Regions from separate parts of the Homo sapiens genome. Here region 2 is linked to region 1. A link means that fine-mapping ties the variant in region 1 to the expression of a gene that starts in the linked region. Tissue or cell type: whole blood. Region 1 holds a variant in brackets; the other region holds the start of a gene. All regions are shown on one strand. Distances are from middle to middle.

The links. PIP is the estimated chance that this variant, and not a neighbour inherited with it, causes the effect.
Region 2: it holds the start of UBAC1, and the variant in region 1 is fine-mapped to the expression of UBAC1 in whole blood (TOPMed, PIP above 0.99).

What each region holds. Positions count from the first base shown.
Region 1 is chr9:135,929,005-135,937,183 of GRCh38, forward strand. UBAC1 (UBA domain containing 1) reads right to left here. Exons shown (of 10, transcript NM_016172.3): 10 at 3,965-4,511. The coding sequence ends at 4,396. Among named protein-coding and RNA genes, the nearest start is that of CAMSAP1-DT, 25 kb to the left of the region's middle. RefSeq lists an enhancer at 2,707-3,206. The variant C/T (reference allele first, on the strand shown) is at 4,049.
Region 2 is chr9:135,956,925-135,965,065 of GRCh38, forward strand. It overlaps UBAC1 (UBA domain containing 1), which reads right to left and starts at 4,449. Exons shown (of 10, transcript NM_016172.3): 1 at 4,101-4,449. The coding sequence starts at 4,238. RefSeq lists silencers at 4,059-4,178, 4,189-4,598 and an enhancer at 4,069-4,569.

The sequences.
Region 1 (8,179 bases):
GCCTGGGAGGCGCGGGAGGACCACACTTGGGGCCCTACACAGGCTGGGACTCATTCTGAGCCCCTAAGGACAGCTTGTGGGTGAAGGGAGCCCCTCTTGGGAATGTGGAGAAGAGAGTGGGGCACCTGCTGGCCAAAGAAAGCCCTGGGCCCACCCCCAGTTATGTGGGCAGTGACAGTTGGGGACAGGGCACTCAGCCATGCTCCCCGGCGACTGCTGGGTGATGAGCAGCCCAACCGCAGGCCCTGGCCCTGCCAGCCCTGGGCTTAGGCTGAACCCGTCAAAAAGGCCCTGCCTGGCCTTGGAGAGCCCACCGTGCCCTGCGGGGTATGAGGCTGGCAGACCCTTGAGGACCAAGCCAGGAGACATCCCTGGCGGAGACTCGATCCCAGGAAAGTGCCGGGGGTGCACTGGCAGGTTCCCCTGCAGGAAGCCAGCTCTTGGGAGCCCAGAATGCAGGCACCACCCCACAGGGGGCTCCCTCAGACTCCCTCGTGTGCCAAGCCAGTGAGCCCGCCTGGGAGTGGGGCAAGGGTGGACCTCACTTAAGTGCAGCTGTTCAAGGGGAGACCGTCAGGCGGGAAACCAGAGCGAGCTCTGAGAGAACGTCGAAGAGCCACTAACTGCCTCAGACCCCCGCCCCCAGCCCTGCCCAGTCTGCAGCATCCAAACCCTTGTCCCCCAGAGCCACATGGCTGTGTTCTCTGCCTGGGAGTCAGTCCCCAGCCAGGCACCAGGCATCCTCACCTGGAGGCAGCTGTGCCTTCCAAGCCTCCACTGGGCACAGAAAGCTGCTTGCAGGTGCCACACCCGACTCCCGGCCCTAACCCGAGAGAGAGCCCCTGGGTGGGCGGGGGCACCCCTGGGCACATGCTGTCTCTGGGCGGTGCTCTCATGGTTAGGAGGCTCGGCCACATCTGCACATGAGGGTTCCTTCTCTCCAGCCTGTGCTGGGCCCAGAACGCCAACAATGCCCTTCCTCTGGCTGAGGCTGTGCCCAGCGCATGAATGCTCTGCCCACCCCACACCCTGCAAATGGCAGCTCATCCTCCTGCCTTCCCGTGGGACCAAGCATGCCTCCAAGGGCAGCGAAGGGCACGGGGGCGAACCCCACAGCTGGGCTGAGGCTGACCCAGGCAGGCCCCACCTGCTCCCCGGATGCACTGAGGCCCCCGATGGTGCTGTCCCCACACCCCCAGCAGGAATGTCCTCTGGGATTCAGGCTCCTGCGGTCTCTGGCTCCCATGCTCCCTGTCCCAGCCCCACCTCCCACCCGCCTGTTCCAGCGAGTGTTTTCCAAGTGCCTCCACAACCAGCCAGCCCTGAAACGGGACGGAGCAGGGCCCTGACCTCGAGAAGGATGCAGGCTGGTGGACCCCCAGCCTCTCCCACATCCAGTACCTCCCGGAGCCCCCCAGTCCCCACCAGCTGACAGTGAGCCCCACCCCTGCCTTCAGACTCCTCACCCGGGGTCCCACCGCCATGCCAGCTCGCTGTAGTGGCCCAAGTGGCTGGGCCACCTCTCTCTGCACCTGGGGGGAGGAATCCCCTGCTTGTGTGGACGGCGCCTACAGTCGGCACAGCAATGTCCTGACCCCACGATCTCAGGGGAAGTCACCCCTCCAGCAGCTGAGCCACGCTGTCCTGGAATCTCAGCATGATCCCACTCCACGAGGAAACGCATGTGTCATCGCCAAGCTCGGCCACCGGAGCAGGAGGGAATGCTGGCCAAGTGAGCCATCTAACTCCCTCCACCTTCCCTGGCACACAGGTGACCTGCCTCGGCATCACACCCTGGTCTAGAGCCCTGAGTATGGCCACAGGGCACTGCCCAGGGGTCCTGCTCCACAGGACCCCGGAAGAAGAAAAACGGCTTAGCAGAAGCTCAAAATGACACAGGTGGCCCTTATCTCAACAGAGCAATGTGCACCGGAACATCTGTGTACGACCCAGCGTCCCCGACCCAGCACCCACGCCCCCCAGAGCCAGGCAGCCTGGCCCCATGGGCTGAGAAGCCACTTGGCCCTCAGCAGCTGGAACACAACTGCGCTCAGGGCCAGGCTCGGCCAGCTGCCTGCCCCTAGTTCATGGGCCACTGTGGCGAAGGCACACATGGACAGCAGCGTTACTGGTCATGGAACTGAAGTCCACGTAAACGAAGAATTTCTAGAGTTTGCCGGCCATTTCATTTCACCTTGTAAGATACAACCTCAGCCCTAAAATACGCGTGCCAGACACAGGCTGTGTTCACAGGGATGGTGCCTCGCCCATGTGTGCGCTGATGGCCTGGCCCAGAGAAGCGGCAGGACTGCAACCAGGCCCAGAGCACTCCCCACCTCCCCAGCAGCCGCTGCAGGAGCAGAAACCACATTCACCAGGGCAGCTGCGACGTGCTCCAGAACCCATCTACGGACGGCCCGCAGCCCCTGGGAAGGCCTCGGCGGCACGTGGTGTTTACTCACCCAGAACTCCACAACTGCATGCAAACCGCGACCAGGTTAAAACGTGGATCCACGCTCACCAGAGGACAGGGCTGGGTGAGAACGCGCATTCCCGACCTCAGGGCCTCTGGGGACTGAAAGGCGGGCGCGGCAGAACACGGGGCTAGCGGAGGAGGCGCACCTGGAGAAGCTGCATGTGCAGGACCAGCCAACGGGAGCGAACGCAGCATCTCCGAGGAAAGGCACTGGCACACACTTCCCTCCTCATGGCCACATCAGGCAGGTGTTGGTGTGGCCCCTCGCCCACCTTGTGGACGCTCAGGCCACAGCAAGATGAGCCAGGCAGCCAGCGAACCCGTGGAAAGCACGGCTCCACAGCCCGCAGGAGGCGGGCTGAGGACACACCTGTCCAGAGGTTCCTCGGAAGGAATTTCCCAACTTTGACTCTTAAACTCGCTGAGGAGAACATTCTCTTCCGACTCACAAGTTTGCCAAAAGAGGATGGCGGGCAAGGAGGGCACTGTGGCTGGCTAGACCCTGCTGACGTGGGGCGGGCCGAGGGCCTGTGGCCTGGCAGCAGGGTAGTAGACAGGCATCTTTTTTTTTTTTGAGACTCCGTCTCAAAAAGAAGTGAGATTCGCTACTTTTTTTTTTTTTTTTGAGACGGAGTCTTGCTCTGTCGCCCAGGCTGGAGTGCAGTGGCGCGATCTTGGCTCACTGCAAGCTCCGCCTCCCGAATTCACACCGTTCTCCTGCCTCAGTCTCCCAAGTAGCTGGGACTACAGGCACCCGCCACCACACCCGGCTAATTTTTTGTATTTTTAGTAGAGACGGGGTTTCACCGTGTTAGCCAGGATGATCTTGATCTCCTGACCTCGTGATCCGCCTGCCTCGGTCCCCCAAAGTGCTGGGATTACAGGTGTGAGCCACCGCGCCCGGCCGAGATTCATTACTTTTGAAAAGCATTTTTAATATTTCTGCCCAAAGAGTTTAAATTAACTTTAGTTTTAAATCTAAATCTCAAAAACAATGAAAAGACCTAGATGTGTGGAGAGAAACATTTTCCGAAAACATTCTTACTCAGCTACAATGCAAGCAGAGTTCAGAAGGGGAGGGGGCTGGTTCAGAAGAGAAGTTCAAAACAAACAGCTCGGAACTGACTGCTTCCAGCAACAATAATGAGCAGAGTTCACAAAAAACAAAATAAATTCATTTTCTCATTTTAAGACACCGGTCATGTTTTTTAAAATGAAAAAAAAGGAGGAAGAGGCCAGAGGTAGGCGGAGGCAGCCGTGCTTGGGCTCAGGACCTGTGTCCCAGGAATACGGGCTCAGCTCCAGTCCCTTAAACCCAATACAACACGAGGCTTTGCCAACCAAACATGGCCACAAGGCCTCCCACATGCTGCGGTGGCCCCGGTGCCCGCCCCGGGTCAGAGCAGCCGGCACGGAGCCGCGGGGATGTGGCCTCTCGGGGACGCACGGGTTTCTTGTGCGGCACCAAGAAAAGACGAAGACAGGAAATAGGAAAAGGGACTTTATTAAAGAAAAGTCATCTGTGAGTGACTAGTTAAATTAGCATGCTTGACATTAACTCTGGGTTGAAAC[C/T]TACCTCCGTCAAATAACAAGTGGACTCTCCAAGCAAATGTCTACACGGCAATTCAAGCAGCAACTCAAGAGCCCAGAGGAGCACTGGAGACGAGGCCATCACTCCACTTCCCAGTGCGACAACCACTTTTTTGTAAACACCTGTCAGATGCTAAAAATACGGCCTTACACACTACCGTCACCAAAGTTTATAAGCAATAAGATCAGAGAGCAGGAGCAGCTGCAGCACCTCTAACAGTCCAGGGCTGAGGCGCTGAAGGTGAGTTTCCAGGTGAGGTCCACTCTGCCCGGTCTCGGGCCGCACCAGGGGGCTGCTGTGGCCTGATAGCCGAGTGGAACAACGCCACCTACGTGCGATTTAGTGTCTGGAAGATTCTAGAGATCTGCAGCATGACAGGCCCCGTTTCTGGATCATTCATCCACTGGGTGCTGTTCAGTGGGTTCTCCAGCATGTCTTCAAATGCTGCAGGGAAAACAGAGCCAGCCTGAGTGCCCACGCCCCCACTCAGCCCACAGGCACAGGCGTGACTTTCCTCTTCGGCAGCTTCCTAATGAAGAGGGTGCGTCTCCAATACAAAGGCCACACAGAGCTCACTGCTAAGTGTGCACTCTCAGGCTGAAACCCACCCAACTCCATCGGATGCACCCATCAAATCAGATCTGATCACAGAGAGTCATGCACTCAATTCTGGCAGGTGGGCAGTGTGCCTGTGCGTGCTCATGGCACCCCCACTCTCGGCAGCTGTCTGGCAGCCGCCAGGGCTCAAAAATCATCTTCCCCAACAACTCCACTTCCAATCCCACCCCGAGAAGGTCAGCAGATGCAGAAAGGACACACACAGACACTGTTGCAAAGTTAACAACAAACTGGAAAAACGTAATGCTCAGCCTTCAGAAAATTCCTTCTTCAAAAAACCAGCACATTAAAAATGCAACACAGCACTTCTTCAAAATGAAAACTTGGGTTTTAACAGCTTTACAAAACTGTTTCCCCAAAACAGGTGGCTTTTAGCAAAAAGCTCTCTGTTCCACCCACTGTGAAGGAGCACGCGTTCTGCCAGCCCCTCTGCCAGGATCGATGGCTCCATGCTGACCTGACACACATGGACGCACTTCAGCATAAGTGGCCCCAGGTCTACAGGCTCCAGGGACAGTGCTCACTACAGAATTCACAGCCATTCACGGCCCAGTAGCCCATGGCTGAGCACAGAGCTCAGAGTGAACCCAACTTGGCTCTGTTCATGATTGGACAATCCCCAGGCCTTAAAACAATCCTCTGGTGTTCTGATTAAAAGTCTCCAAAAACCACTTTAAAATCTCAGAAAAAGCCAGGCACGGTGGCTCATGCCTGTAATTCCAACACTTTGGGAGGCCGAAGCAGGCGGATCATGAGGTCAGGAGATCGAGACCATCCTGGCTAATACGGTAAAACCCTGTCTCTACTAAAAATATAAAAAATTAGCTGGGCGTGGTGGCAGGCGCCTATAATCCCAGCTACTCGGAAGGCTGAGGCAGGAGAATAGCATGAACCAGGGAGGCGGAGCTGGCAGTGAGCCGAGATTGCGCCACTGCACTCCAGCCTGGGCAGCAGAGTGAGACTCCGTCTCAAAAAATAAAAATAAAAATCCCAGAAAAAGACTCAGAAAGAACAAACTATAAGGTGCGAAACAGCTGTTTCACACACAGGGCGGGGAACTTAATTTCCCATTTCCTCTCAATAAACAGCAAAATAAATTCTGGAAGGATGAAAGAGTTGAACAAAAAGATAAAGAGTTAAATATGAAAAACCACACAGATGATTATTTATCTGAGGAAGGACTTTCCTTTTTGAATTTAATTTTTTTTTGAGACAGCGACTTGCTTTGTTGCCCAGGCTGGAGTGCAGTGGAGTGATCATGGCTCACTGCAGCCTTGAACTCCCAGACTCAATGATCCTCCCACCTCAGTCCCCTGAGTAGCAGGGACTACAGGTACGTGTGCCACCACTCCTGGCTGATTTTGTTTTTTTGTTTGTTTGCTTTTTTAGTAGAGAGGAGGTCCTGCTATGTTACCCAGGCTGGTCTCGAACTCCTGAGCTCAAGTGATCCTCTTGCCTCAACCTCCCAAAGTGCTACAATTACAGGCATGAGCCACCATGCCCAACCTGAGGAAGGACTGTCTTCTGTATATCCTAACTTCTGTATGTCAGAAAATGCCACACAAAATTAGAGAGCAAAAACAGTTTACAACATTCAACAAAGGAAGATGTGCCTAATATCCAAGAAGCTATTAAGGAAGCTCTAGGATTAATATTGCAATTGAAAAACACATGTGCCAGGCACAATGGCTCTCGCCTACAATCCCAGCACTCTAGAAGGCAGAGGTGGGGGGAGCGCTTGAAGCCAGGAGTTCAAGACTAGCCTGAGCAAAAAAACGAGACCCCATCTCAACAACAACAAAAAAAATAGCTGGGCATGGTCGTGCATGCCTGTAGTCATAACTACCCATGAGGATGACTTGAGCCCAGGAGGTCAAGGCTGCAGTAAGCTGTGATTGTACCACTGCACTCCAGCCTGGGTGACAGATCAAGACCCTGTCTCCATAAAAAGAAGGAAAACAAATAGATGACACGCATAGACAGTATGTAAAAGAAGAAATGCAATGGCCAACAGAAAAGTATTCAACATTGCTAATAACCAAAAGGAATGCAAGTGGCCAGGCGCAGTAGCTCAAGCCTGTAATCCCAGCACTTTGGGAGGCCGAGACGGGCGGATCACGAGGTCAGGAGATCAAGACCATCCTGGCTAACACGGTGAAACCCTGTCTCTACTAAAAATACAAAAAATTAGCCGGGCACGGTGGCGGGCACCTGTAGTCCCAGCTACTCAGGAGGCTGAGGCAGGAGAATGGCGTGAACCCGGTAGGCGGAGCTTGCAGTGAGCTGAGATCGTGCCACTGCACTCCAGCCTGGGTGACAGAGCGAGATTCCATCTCAAAAAAAAAAAAAAAAAGAGGAATACAAGTTAAAACAATGAAGGTCTTGTCTATAATATGGAGGTGGGCAAGTGTGTGTGCTGGGGGCAGATCTTGCATGGACAGTGGCGCCATCACTGCACTCTAGCCTGGGTGACAGAGAAAGAGCCTATTTCTATTAGGAAAAAAAAAAGAAAAAGTTATTGGACAGACCCCAAGGCAGCACACACTAACATCCTAAGGTATACAAACAGCTGGAGAGCTAGGAGGAATATGCTTTCAGTGTGAAAGGAATCACTAAGAATAAAAATAAACTCACAAAAGACCATTCTCAAGTTTTAGAATTTGGGTACAAAGAAGATCCCTACCTCACACCACACACATACTTCTAGGTAGATTATGGACTTAAATTAAGAGAAACTTTTAACATTTTTGGAAAAAAAAATAAAAGGAAAACGTGTTTCTGACTTTCGGATAGGAGGGTTTTCCTTTTTCTTTTTTTTTTTTTTGAGGTGGAGTCTTGCTCTGACGCCCAGGCTAGAGTGCAGTGGCACGATCTCGGCTCACTGCAACCTCCGCCCCCCAGGTTTAAGCAATTCTCTGCCTCAGCTCCAGAGTAGCTGGGATTACAGGTGCATACCACCATGCCCAACTAATTTTTTGTATTTTTAGTAAAGACAGCGTTTCACCATCTTGGCCAGGCTGGTCTTGAACTCCTGACCTCGTGATCCACCTGCCTCAGCCTCCCAAAGTGCTGGGATTACAGGCGTGAGCCACCACGCCCAGCCATGGAGGGTTTTCTTTAAAGGTTCACATCTTAAAAAAAATACAGACACACTGAAGGACATCAAAACACGGGATTCTGCCCATCAGTGTGAGGAAATAAACCAGAAACTGAACAACGGCATCTGCAACACAAATAATGGGAAAAGGGTCAGCATCCAGGAGGTGAGGACCTTTCTGAATGAATAAGAAAACAATCCAAGAGAAAAGCAGGCCAAACGCTGAGCGGAAGGTCTCTCACAGCCAAGGTTCTACAGGCGGCCAATACGCTTCTGAAAGAAGGCCAGCCTTCAAGATCAGGGCACGGCCATCGCAGCTCCAGAGACACTTCCAGCCTGCTCGGGTGGCAAAGGCCCTCCCAACATCCAGGAACTCAGCTCCTGGGGACCAACAGGT
Region 2 (8,141 bases), 28 kb after region 1:
GCCTGGAGCTGGGCCGGGGCACCACCCCAGGACAGGCCGTCCTCGGACGTCTCAGGTGGCCGGGCAGACGCCCTGCTGGCAGCTCACTTTCCACCACCCTTTGCTGCCACAGAGGCTCTGAAACACCCAGCACACACAACTGCTTGCTGGGAAAGAAAATCTAAGCACACACTTCACCTCTCAACACTGGCATTTTCAGAGTAACTGGAATTTCTGTTACTCTCAAGACTGAAAACGGTTTTGAAAAAGGGATTGACGGCTTCAGGGGCTCACTCCTTCACACAAAACTGGCCAGGCTGAGGGGATGTTGGGGGGACGCAGCTACTAGGAAGACACACTCCTGCCATTTACAACAGGGCAGAGAACCCTCAAGTGCCTCTGGATTTGACAATGGCTCTGCTCCCTGAAATACTGGGGGTGCTTCCTCATGATCCTAAAGTTTGCAGGCTAGTTCATTTGTCAAGTTCAGAATACAGACTACGAAATGCAGTTTTCCAAAATAATTCTCATACTGATTCCCAAAAAACCCACAGTCCACGTGTCACCAGCACACCAGGAACAACACGGAAGCACTAGGACGACCGTGTCACTCTGCTTCTTTGTTCTCGGCAGAAGCTGGGGTATGGCAGCAAAAAAGCCCCAACCAAGGCCGCTGGAGTAGGGAGGCCCTCACACCCCCACCCCACTCCATCCTGCTCCTCCCCAGAAGAGTAGTGACTTCGTTTCTGCTTGTACCTGATGCAACCTGCCATCTGAGGACCCATCTTCATGCGATCTAGGAAATGGAAAATTTAACAGCTATACTAGCGGGTACTCTCTTCTAGTCTGGCAATTTTATGAACTCCTTCTTTTTTTTTTTTTTTTTTTAAAGACAGGGTCTCATTCTGTCACCCAGGCTGGAGTGCAGTGGCGCGATCTCCGCTTATTGCAACCTCCGCTTCCCAGGTTCAAGCGATTCTTGTGCCTCAGCCTCCTGAGTAGGTGGGATTACAGGAGTCCGCGACCATGCCAGGCTATTTTTTTACATTTTTAGTACAGAAGGGGTATTGCCATGTTGGCCAGGCTGGAATTTCATGAATGTTTACGACACACCAAAAACTCTACTGCACCACAGGTATAATTTTCTTTTTTTTTTTTTTTGAGACGGAGTCTCTCTCCGTCGCCCAGGCTGGAGTGCAGTGGCTTGATCTCGGCTCACTGCAAGTCCCACCTCCCAGGTTCACACCATTCTCCTGTCTCAGCCTCCCGAGTAGCTGGGACTACAGGTGCCCGCCACCACGCCCGGCTAATTTTTCTGTATTTTTAGTAAAGATGGGGTTTCACTGTGTTAGCCAGAATGGTCTCGATCTCCTGACCTTGTGATCTGCCTGTCTTGGCCTCCCAAAGTACTGGGATTACAGGCATGAGCCACCGTGCTCAGCCAGGTATAATTTTCTAAAACTCATTAACTACCTGTTGTACAAGACAGGTTCCTCTGCCCCCTTCTCCACTCCAGGGCAATGGAAGCTAGAGGCCACCACGGTGATCCCAATTTGCACAAAACAGAAAAGGGAAAGGCAAAAGCAAGAGTTTTGATCATAAAACCCCTCCTTGATTCAGGAGTGCACACCCAGGAGCACAGCAGGGAGAAGCCGACATCATTCCCCTCCAGGCAGATGGAAAAGAGGAAGGAAAAAATCATGCCGGCGTCAGCACGCACTGGGGACCTGGCGAGGAGGAACAAAGCTAAAACAGACACCAGACCTCACTGCCTACAGCAGGATGACATCCAGGGACCGGCTTCCAGAGAGACATTCAAATACACAACTCGAGGGTTCTCTTTTCTGACTAACGCATTCTGGCCCTGCCTGCAGAACCACGCTGGGATGTGGTGGTGGGGAACCTTTCTGACGCTCAGCTCTGGAGTCCTGAAATGTATGTCGGCTCTTGCGGTGTGAAAATCCCCTGCTACTCAGATCCTCCACACCTGTGGAAACCGCAGAGTGGGATACAATCTCAATTTAAAGTAGAATAATGACAAAACATCCCAAATGATACATCTCAACACCAAATGGAATAATATATATCAGGAGTATAATAATTAGCATTGCATCGGAACTGGCTGCCTAACTGACCCTCCGTGCTCCTGAAATTCATGAGTAGGTATCTGTGGATCAAACAGCTCTCATTTCCTATTTCCTTTCATAAAAGAGTATCATGATGGCCATGCACATCGCACCGAGTGAGTTAAAGTAAATGCCGTGCCAACGCAGGGGACATCCCATGTCGATGCAGTGTGGGGTCCACAGGATATTTTTGTCTATTCCATTAACCCACAAGTTTGTTTTGGTGCCACTCTAAGCCCGGCCCTGGACTTGTGGATATAAACCGAACCCCTGAGGAGCTTCTGTACTGGCTCAGGGAGGACACAGCAGCACCTCAGAGAAGTTTCTAGGGTTTTTTGTCTGGTTTTTTTTTTTTTTTTTTTTTGAGACGGAGTCTTGCTCTGTCGCCAGGCTGGAGTGCAGTGGCGCGATCTCATCTCACTGCAACCTCCGCCTCCCGGGTTCAAGCGATTACCCTGCCTCAGCCTCCCAAGTAGCTGGGATTACAGGCACACACCACCACGCCCCGCTAATTTTTTGTATTTTAGTTGAGACGGGGTTTCACCATGTTGGCCAAGATGGCCTCAATCTCCTGACCTCATAATCCGCCCACCTCGGCCTCCCAAAGTGCTGGGATTACAAGTGTGAGTTACCGTGCCCGGCCCAGAGAAGTTTTTTAAAATACACACAACTAGACAAGCAACACCACCTGGCTCAAACAGCCTGGATGCCCACGGAGTTACCGGCGCTGGAGCTTAGTGATGCCCCGATGGTTGTTCAGACGGCAAAATCATGCAGACTGGGGCAGAAGAAAAGCAAGAAAGCAGCCAAAACATACCGGCCCTTGAACGCAGGAGGCTCAGCCCCCTCCTTGGTGTGAATCCTGAGGCCAGCACCTCCCAGTTATTCACAGCCAGTGCGTTCCAGAAGGGGGCTTGCCAAGCTTGCCTCTGACAGTTCCAGAACTCCACAGAACCATGCTCACAAAAGCAACTCGAAAGTACTGTATGCGAGCAGCTACTATGGTAAGAACTGAAGTTTATCCTTAGAGACCACACTCAGCTCAAGTGTAACGCACTCAACCTGTCAACACAGATACGTCGTAACTTATCACATGGAGTCGCCACTAGAAAATTGCAGCCTCCTTCAACCTAAATTCTGCCAAGCCCTCAGATCATGTCAGGTATAGACAGGAGGTCAGTCTGACACACAGACAGGCTTCTTAGCTGACCTTACTGAGTCCTTTAGAGACTCGAGAACTAGTTCCAAAAATCAGCAACCTAAGGAACTAAATACACAGGAGTATTTCAGGTGAATAAACTTTAAAAAGTGTCTCCGCGAGGAGACCCTACTCCTGGGACTTCTCTCTTGACCAATTTTACCTCTGCAGAAAAGCAGGGGCGCAGGGCCTTGTCCCGCAGCGGCACTATTTCAGGGACTCCAGCTAAAAGGCACAGTGGCCTGGGGCCAGCCAGGAAAAGAGCTCCAAGCAGCCGGCTCTGCGGGAAAGGGGAAGAGGAAGGAGAAGGGGCCTCTTCATGAAGGAGCCTACGTTAATTCTCAGCTCTCAAAGATGCTGCTGAAAAAAAACCTCACCCCAACAGCAAAAAGGTACAACTGCCGGAAAGTCCCGAGGCCCTGCTCCGTCGGCGACTTCACTCTCCAGGCCTCAGTTTCCCGATCTGCCCCTACCTCCCTGCGTGGCTGCAGAGTTAACTGAGAGGCTGGCGTGTACAGGGCTCGGCCGGGCGGCTGGCACGGGGCGAGCGCTTAGTGACCGGAGTCCGCCGGCCGAAAGGCCAGGCCCGGGACGAGCGTCCAGAGGTGTGGGATCCGAAAGGGGGAGAGTCGGGCAAACGGGCAGGAGGCGCTGCCTCCACCCCCGGAGGAGAGGGCCTGGGAGCTGCGGACTGGGCGGCGGACCCCAGGTCGGGGCGGTTCGGGGACTGAGGCGGGGTCCGCAGTCGGAGGGGTCCGGAGCGGGTGTTGGGGGCAGGGGAGGGGGCCCGGCCTTACGTGCTTGAGGCAGCGCTCCTTGAGCTTCTCCACCGAGGTGTCCTCGGTGGCCTCCTCCAGCCACTCGGCGCCGTCGGACGCGCAGATGTGCAGCCGCAGCACCTTGCCCGCGAAGATCTTCTCCTCCTGCACGAACATCCCGCCGCCGCCGCAGGGGCCTGCGCCCGCCACCCGGGCCCCTGAAGGTCACCGGGAAGGCGGGCGGGGAGGGGGCGGGGCCAGACCGCCCGCGCGCTCCTTCGCTGGGCCGCCGCCCCGCCCCGGCTCCCGTCGGCCGGGCCGCCGTCACTCTCCGCGGCCTCAGCGGTCGCCTCGCTCCCGCCGCCGCAGCAGCCGCCGGGGGCGCGCCGTCGCGGCCGCACCGGAAGTGCGTCACGGGCGCGTCTGGCGCATGCCGGGAGATGTGGTTCTCGGACAGGCGCCTCGCTCCCGCCGCCGGGGGCGCGCTGTGGCCACCGCAAAGGAAGTGCGTCACGGGGCGCGCCCGGAGCATGCCGGGAGCTGTAGTTCTCTGGTAGCTTCGTTCCTCCCCGAGCTGCAGGCGGTTCCCACCCGGGGCACTCACCACGTGGGACCTCATGGGTTCTAAAGGTAAAATACACGCTGGATCCCAAAGAAGTAACGGGAAAAAGGAATGTAAGGCATCTCGATAATGTTTTCATATTGATTACATGTTGAAATAATATTTTGTATCTATTGAGTTAAGAAAAATATGTCATTAAAATTAATTTCACCTGTTTCTTTTAACCTTTTTAAGATAGAATTTTAAATTGCCTACATGGCTGCTGTGATATTTCTTTTGCACTGCACTGCTGTAGAACGGAGGCTCTCCAAAGAACTTGGCTTTAACAAGCCTAGGTCTTTCTAATTCACACGCAGATCAGAGAGTCACTGTTCCTGCGAAGCCTAGGTTTGCGGGGCACCCAGAGGGGAGGGAAGCCGCCCTTGGTGCAGGTGATGCCAGGCAGACTCATTTTCTGTGGGGTGTGACAAAGAGTCTTTGCTTGGCCAAACTTAAGCAGGCTCCTGAACCTTCTACATCATCTGTACACTTCCTTGTAAAATCCAGTTTTAGCGAAGAGCCTTGATAAGTGAGTTTAGCAAGAACTCCCAGCCTCAATATCAGATCACCCTGGACGTCTGGTCAGGTTCCTCGTCCCCCAGGTGCTGTCTGATATCTCCAGCCTCTCTTCAGCAAGAACCCTGTCAGGTCGGTTTAGCCAGAACCGCCCACATCCCTGATGTTTTCTCCTATTAATTTTCCATTCACTGACCCCACCCACTTGCCCTTGCTGTATTGGGAGTTGAGCCTGACCTCTCTCCCCACTGCAAGCCCCCTTGGCAGTGGTCTCTGTACCTAGCTCAACAGTCCTGGATAACGTCTTACTTACCATGCTCCTAAATATGAATTTTGTAGTTCAGGTTAGACCTGACACATTGACTGATCTGTACTCATTCATCCCATTCATTTAAAAAAACTTTACTGCGCAGAGATGAATAAGGCACAGTTCCCGTTCTCAGAGGTTAGCAATCTAACCGGGGAGGCTGTCTCTGCCTCCTGCCTGCAGGCTTTTATTCTGTCCACACCATTTTGCACACACATCCTCATTTTTCTCCTGTGATAATTCCAACCTCGTCCAGATTCCATGTGTCCAGTTCAGCACTTACTAATTGCCTCTCACAGGTGGGAGCCTCTGCTACTCAATGAAAATATGGTAGTGATTAAGACCAGACACCAGGATACAGTCCTGGAATGGGGCATTTTTAACGCAGGAAGCAGAAGTACCGACTGTTAGAGACCGCAGTGGAGGTGGTGGTAGTATCGTGGAAGCTGGTGGAGGAGAAAGGGGAGGAACACCAAGGTGGTGAGTGGAGAGTGGGGGAAGCTAGAGGGCTTGGAGGAGCCGGGTCAGAGCATTAAGACGTTGCTGTGAGAGCCACTAACGGTGTGACCAGGTGGCAGAATGAATGGTGGTGACTGTGGAGGGGACAGGGAAGAGGGCAGGGCATCCTTGCGGGGGAGCAATGCGGAGGGAGAGGAAGAGGAGAAGGGGGCTTCCAGTGGCCTGTGGGAGGGGAGGCCAGCAGGATTGGAGGGTGTGGGCCCAAGAGTGAAATCAAGGATGACTTGAAGACTTCCAGTGTGGGTGGCAGAGTGCAGGGCAGTGCCACCTTTTGAAGTAGGAGGCAGGAGGAGGAGCCATTGGCCAGGAAGGTGTTGGGTAGTTTTGGACACGGGGACCTGGATGTGCTGGGGGCATTCACACGGAGGTGGCCTGGAGGCAGCTGGACCTACAGGACTGAAGTTGAGGAGAGAGGCCTGGGCTGGAGACAAACACTGGGCAGCCGGCCTGGGCCACGTAGCAAGACCCTCTACAAAAAATAAAAAAAATTAATGAGCTGGGCGTGGTGGTGCACACCTGTGGTCCCAGCTACTCAGAAGGCTGAGGTGGGAGGATCACCTGAGCCCAGGAGGTCCAGGCTGCAGTGCGCCGTGATGGCACCACTGCACTCCAGCCTGGGCAACACAGCAAGACCCCGTCCCAAAAAAACAAAACAAAACAAAAAAGTCAAACCAGTCATGAGCACACCAGCGGCAGCTGGAACTAAGAGGATGCCCACCCCCCTTCCCATGCAGAGGAGCTCATGAAGAAAACAGAGGAGTATGGTACTAGGAAAGTTCCAAGAGTGTGGCTCCATGAAACACAAGGCGGAGAAGATATTGAGGAGAAAATGGGGCCTGTAAGAGAAGAACCAGAAATATCACGTCATCTCAGGGAGCGTCTCCAGGGACCGGAAGGGGACTGGGGCCCAAGCCTGCCTGGCTGCAGATCTGGTATCTGCAGCCACAGTGATGCTGCATAACAAAACCGTCCTAAAACTCAGCGGGTAAAACAACCAACAGCTCTCCATCACTTCTCACAAGTCCACGGCTGGCTGGGTGGTGCTGCTGACCAAGCCAGGCTGGCAGGTGGGCTGGTCGGGATCCCTAGGCCCTCAGCCTCGGTCTCATGTTCCCCAGTGAGTTCCCACGGGAGTGTCTGGGATCCACCGCAGCAGGTTTTTCAGCCTTTGCTTGAGCCATGTTTGTTGATGTCCTCTGGACCAAAGTCAAAGAGGGAGGGGACAAAGTGACAGGGAAAGGATGGAGCCATGGGAAAGCCACCAAGAGGCCACAGATGCACCTGTTCCACCTTCCAAGAAGGCTGGGGGAACAGAGAGAGGAGGGCACCAGCCACGGGGTGCCCAGCAGCATGTTTACATTAGAGAGGCTGGGCGCGTTTCTGGGCTGAGCGTGAGAGCGGGCAGAGGGGAGGCTGGGGCTGGAGGAAGGAGGAGGGATGGGGTGGCTGGGGAGGGGGCTGAAGCTGTGGCCTCAGGGCATCCCGCTTGCTTCTGACAGGAAACATCTGAACCCCCCATCCTGGCATCAAACCTTCCCAGTCTCCCTGTTTCCTCCTGGCCACGGGCTTTACAGCGGGGGGACAGTGCCATCACAAGGACCCTGCAAGGGTCCACAGAGGCCACGCTAGCAAAGACTCAAGCCAAAGCTGACCTGAGTCCTGGAGGAACGCCTGTGCCCTCCCGTGGAAGGATAGGAGGTTCGTGGTACTCTGAGACCACTCCAGCCCCCACCCCGCTTCACCCACGAGGCTGTCAATTGATGGGTTCTCATTGTCTCCCCTCCTCTCATGGGTTTGAGGCTGTTTCCTATAACAAATTGCCACAAACTGGGGCTGGGGGGTGGTGCTTAAAACAATAGAAATGTATTTTCGCCCAGTTCTGAAGGCCGGAAGTCTGAAATCCAGGTGTTCATGGGCCACGCTCCCTCTGGAGCCACAGGGGAGGGTCCTTCCTGCCTCCTCCAGCTCCTGGGGACTCCGGGGTTCCTTGGCCTGTGGCCACATGGCTGTAGCCTCTGCCTCCATCTTCATGCAGCCTCTCCTCTTCCCATGGCTGTCCTTTGTGTGCCTCCCATGAGGACACTTGTCATTGGATTTGGGGCCACCCTAATCTAGGATGATCTTACCTGGAGATCCT